2 separate regions of the Homo sapiens genome follow, and region 1 is linked to region 2. The links come from fine-mapping of genetic effects on gene expression. Tissue or cell type: blood mononuclear cells. Region 2 holds a variant in brackets; the other region holds the start of a gene. All regions are shown on one strand. Distances are between the middles of the regions.

Region 1 (2,680 bases), 410 kb before region 2:
CTCTGTGGAGGGTCACTGTTCAGCCTTGGGGTTCATTATATTTCGGGGAAGGTGGCCAGTGTTATAGATTCCTTCAGATGATATGTAATCCTGTGATGAATTTAGATTCCGAGGCTTCAAGCAGCATCCAGCGGGGAACTATAACCTTTCTGCTATGATAAAATGGAAAAGAGCAGGACAGGGAAGGGACGGGAAACCTGAGATTGGTTATGGTTACACTTAATTGTTTTTTTTGTTTTGTTTGGTTTTGTTTTGTTTTTTTGAGATGGAGTCTTGCTCTGTTGCCCAGGCTGGAGTGCAGTGGCACAATCTCGGCTCACTGCAACCTCCACCCCCCGGGTTCAAGCGATTCTTCTGCCTTAGCCTCCCGAGTAGCTGGGACTACAGGTGTGCGCCATCACGCCTGGCTAATTTTTGTATTTTTAGTAGAGACAGGGTTTCACCATATTGGCCAGGCTAGTCTGGAACCCCTGACTTCGTGACCCGCCCGCCTTGGCCTCCCAAAGTGCTGGGATTACAGGCATGAGCCTCTACAAGATGCTATTCAGCAAGCTAATGGAGTCACCTTCCCTGCAGACCTCAGTTATATTGTGGCAGGAAAGGATCAACTCATTCTGTTTCTGGGAGACTCACGTTCAAGGCTAGGCTTTGGGACTTTGTGCCTCCGTTTCCTAACCTGTAACACTGAGTCCTGCTTCCCTCGGGGCGGGGGGATCCTGCTGTTAATAAGAAGCACCAAGCCAGAAATCAGGATCACAAATTCTAGCCTCTGCTCCAACAGGAACTCTCTGGGTAACTTCAGCGTTTTTCCTTAAGCTCTCTCTCTTCCTCAGTTTTTCAGTCTGTAAGAGGGTGTGAGCATGCGTGTTGCACTGGCTCCTGTGGGATTAAAGAAGACAGGAGGTGTGAAGAGTTTGGATAAACGCCGCGGATATAGCCTTCAGGTGCTAACTCAGGTGTGCGGGAAAGTGGACTGGGAGTCTTTGCGGCCACAAACAACTAAAACCTAACTTCAGATGTAAAGATTATATGCAGTTTTGGATGAAACCGCTTGGCCGGGGCGATTTCCGCCCTACCTTCCCGGGAAACTGGGCAGCAGGCTGAGAGAGTTCCAAAATGAGGACAAGCTCTGAAGACCAGCCCCGCATCCTCCAGCTCTTCCAGGGTCCCACGGCTCCGGTCGGCTCCCGCGCGCCACCTGGTGCCGTGTCCCCGCCACTGCCCAGAAACCACGTGTAAGAAAGCGCTGACAACCTAACTACGCACTGTGGTTTCGACCCATCCCAACCAGTAGGGAAGGAGGAGGCGGGGCGGAGGAAAGCGAGGGCCCAATCCCCTCCCGCCTTCCGAGGGGAAGGCGGGGCTTGGGGTTTACCACGTTGGGTTTGTCCGCAGCGCTAATTACTTTTTCCAAAGGCTGGAGGGCTTCACTCCGGCTGGCGCCGCCGCCTAGCGCGCTCCTGCTTCGCCGCCACGGTCCGGGGGGGCTGCCGGTCCCGGGTACCATGTGTGACGGCGCCCTGCTGCCTCCGCTCGTCCTGCCCGTGCTGCTGCTGCTGGTTTGGGGACTGGACCCGGGCACAGGTAGCGCCCCCTCCCACAGCCCTCTTCACCCCGCGTCCTGCGGCTACCTTCCCTCTGCGTTCTCGCGGCGTCCTGGCGGCCCGGGGGCGGCGGCGGGACCGCTGACGGCGCCCGAGCGGAGGAGGCGCGGGCCGCGGCCGGAGTACGGGAATCGGGTGGCTCCGTGGCAGGCGCGCCGCCGCCGGGTCTCCGCTCGCCGATGCGCGGCGCCGTTCCGGGAGGTGCTCGCGCGGCTGCGCCGGAGACCCTCCCCGGGTGGCGCGGGCCAGCGTGGAGGTGCCGGGCGAGGGAAGGGAAGGCAGCGCCGGCTCCGGGTCGCGCTGTCCCCGCGCTGGCGCGGCTGGCGGCCAGCGGGAGGGCGGGCGTCCGGGCGGGCCCCGCCGCGCTGACGCGTCTCCTCTCTCCCCGCAGCTGTCGGCGACGCGGCGGCCGACGTGGAGGTGGTGCTCCCGTGGCGGGTGCGCCCCGACGACGTGCACCTGCCGCCGCTGCCCGCAGCCCCCGGGCCCCGACGGCGGCGACGCCCCCGCACGCCCCCAGCCGCCCCGCGCGCCCGGCCCGGAGAGCGCGCCCTGCTGCTGCACCTGCCGGCCTTCGGGCGCGACCTGTACCTTCAGCTGCGCCGCGACCTGCGCTTCCTGTCCCGAGGCTTCGAGGTGGAGGAGGCGGGCGCGGCCCGGCGCCGCGGCCGCCCCGCCGAGCTGTGCTTCTACTCGGGCCGTGTGCTCGGCCACCCCGGCTCCCTCGTCTCGCTCAGCGCCTGCGGCGCCGCCGGCGGCCTGGTACTGCCCGCGCCACCTCCGGGTCGGCCCGTCCGGTCTGTTGCGACGCAGAGTGGTCGCCGTGGAGGGTGGGGGTGGGGCGCCTCTGCTGGAAGTCCAGCCTCCAGGGGAACCGGAGGGAACCCCCTGCCTTTCCACCTCTCCCCATCCCCCACCCCGGCCTTCGGTACCCTCTATAGGCAAAGGGGGTGGGAGGGGCAGCATCCCAGTCCAGCGCCTCTGCAGCCCGTGGAACCCGCGCGGAGCTGGGGTTGCGTGGGGTATACGCCGCCCGCTCTAGGGAGCGCAGATCTGGCAGGGATGAAACTGTCAGG
Region 2 (2,680 bases):
AGACAATTTTTCTGTCCCTACTCTGGTGTCCACGGACTGTCACACCACCACTTCTGCTTTCAGGCAGAAAACCACCTCCCAGCAGGCTCCCACTGAGGACTCTCGCCTGACCTGGAAACCCCTGCTCCTCTCTCTGCTGCCATCTGCCTCAGGGAGAGTTGGGCTGGAGGAGGGAGTGGAGCAGTGGGGACAGGAAGTCCCTCGCTAGACTCAGCAAAACAGGGACCCTTGGCTTGGGTGGGCAGCTTTCTGCAGCCCCCTTTGTTTCCACCTGGAAACGTTGATTTCCCCAGTTGGACACTCAGAATCTCAAATGACATCAAGGCCACAAACAAATCTCTCCTCCTCTGCAGGGCATTCTTTTCACATGCCCTCAGAGCATGACTGAGCTTGGAGGAATTCTGAGCCATGGTTGGTTTGCTGCAAATGGGCATCGTCAGGTGTTCCTGTAGCCAGGGAAACAGGAAATGAGGACAGAGGAGAGGGGATGCCAGTAGAGCTTTGAGTCCTCGGGTTCCAAGAGGGGAGAAGATGGATGTGGCATGCGTGTCTAGGGCCCAGGCTGAAGGCCCTGAACGGCAGAGGAGACCGGGGCTACGGGGTCACGTCATGGAGCAGAAGGCCTGTGCACCAGAACGCACCATGAGGCCACCATCTGGGGGTCCACAGGGGCAGCTGAACCTCATCATGCCTAGGGTTTCTGGTCACCTCCTACCTATGCAGAGCTGTGGACAATAAGCTGGACCAGCAGTTACCACCCGAAAAGCAAGAGGAGAGCTCACCACAGTCATGCCTTGCCAGCCCCTCTTCCTGACCCCAACATTAGAACAGCAAGTGCCAAGAAGCAGGAGAGTCATGTGCAACTGCCCCTACCCCACTCTCCATCTATGGAAACACTAGGTTTAGCCTGCACTAGGTGGAGAAGGGAAGAGAGATTGACGTTTCAAAATGAGCTATCAGGGGACTTCTATTTACAGCAATATGAGAAACTAGGTAACCTGAAAGGCAACACCCACCGCAATATGCTCAGAATTGCTTGGTGCAATAGAACAGACTCTAAATGCAGAGTTCAACAGAAAGTAAAGGCCAAAAGATGAACTGGGAACCAACAATTAGGTATACAACTTCATGATCTCCCCACCCACCAGGGCTGGCATCCTCTCACTAACTCAGGGGCTTGG[A/G]TTGTTTTGTTTTGCTTTTCGAGACAGAGTCTCACTCTGCCACCCAGGTTGGAGTGCAGTGGCACAATCTCAGCTCACTGCAACCTCCACCTCCCGGGTTCAAGTGATTCTCATGCTTCAGCCTCCCGAGTAGCTGGGATTACAGATGTGCATCACTATGCCTGGCTAGTTTTTATATTTATTTTTAGTAGAAATGGGGTTTTGCCATGTTGACCAGGCTGGTCTTGAACTCCTGGCCTCATGTGATCCACCCAACTTGGCCTCCCAAAGTGCCAGGATTACAGGCGTGTGCCACCATCCCTGGCCTAGGGACTTGGGTTTTAATGCTGTGAGGAATTGGAGAGGAAGCCTTGGACCTGCCCCACAACACTCATAAATGAGGGGTCCTTCAAGGGCAGGATGCACTCTCAGTAATCATCATCTAGAGAAAGTTCCCCCACTGGCAGTTATGTCAGGGATATTAGACCTGGCCTGGGCTCTGAGTAGGGAAAATGATTCTCCTATCAATTTGTCATCACAGGCCCATACTCATGTGATGGGATTAGGCTGTATATGACATGCATGGGCCAGAAAATCCCCAGGTCAAAACATTGGTATGCAAAGCAGTCCTGGGCTGGTGATAACGCCAAGCACCTGGCTGAAGCAAACCCAAAAGCACTCTGGAGGCACCCACTCTCATGTAAGGTACAGAAGATTCCAATAGATGAAGTCCCCATTAAGACCAGCTCACAATCCCAAATTACAAAACACTGGCAACTCCAAGTCAATAAACTTCAGGGATGGAAAGCCAGTAGAATGATCAAAACAGAGCCTACAAGATAAATTGGCTTAAAATTACTAAAGACCTAAAATGAGAAATAAAAACAGAAAAAAAGAATCAAGATACATGAAAAAATAGGTAAATTTTAAAAAGTATTTCCAGAAAGTAAAATTTTAAAAATATAATTACTGAAATAATAGAAATACCTCTGCAGATGGGTTACCGCTGATTCTCAAAGTTTATCACACCTGAGGATCCCCTGGAGGGCTTCTTAAACACAGACTGCAGGGCCACCTCCAGAGTTTCTGGGGCAGGGCCTGAGAATTTGCATTTATAAGAAGTACCCAGGTGAAGCTGCACTGATGATCTGGGGACAACGGGTTAGCTGATTAACTCTGGCCAAAGACAAAATTCTGACTGACCAAAAGTAGTTGACAAGTTAGTGAATAAAGTTGGGTTATTTTAATAGGTCTTCTATCCAGGGGAAAGGAGTTTCAATCAGCACACAGTTGAAAGCAGTAACTGAGAAAAATAAAACCATGTCCACGTGCATGTTTCAAATACACTGTCAGGATTTTCAATAGTCTAAGTAGTCTGTATCTTGTCCAAGGTTACAAGAGACAAAGAACATTATATATTGAGAAGAGATTCAATACAGCAAGAATAAGTAGTTATAAACATTTAGCACTTAACAGAATATGCAAAGCAGAAAGGGAGCGAATTGGAGGGAAAAGTAGTT

The links. PIP is the estimated chance that this variant, and not a neighbour inherited with it, causes the effect.
Region 1: ADAMTS17 starts here. The variant in region 2 is fine-mapped to the expression of ADAMTS17 in blood mononuclear cells (TOPMed, PIP 0.93).

Annotation. Positions count from the first base shown.
Region 1 is chr15:100,340,725-100,343,404 of GRCh38, reverse strand. It overlaps ADAMTS17 (ADAM metallopeptidase with thrombospondin type 1 motif 17), which reads left to right and starts at 1,430. Exons shown (of 22, transcript NM_139057.4): 1 at 1,430-1,584; 2 at 1,996-2,366. The coding sequence starts at 1,506. RefSeq lists an enhancer at 2,578-2,680.
Region 2 is chr15:99,929,885-99,932,564 of GRCh38, reverse strand. No RefSeq gene overlaps it. Among named protein-coding and RNA genes, the nearest start is that of LYSMD4, 200 kb to the right of the region's middle. The variant A/G (reference allele first, on the strand shown) is at 1,182.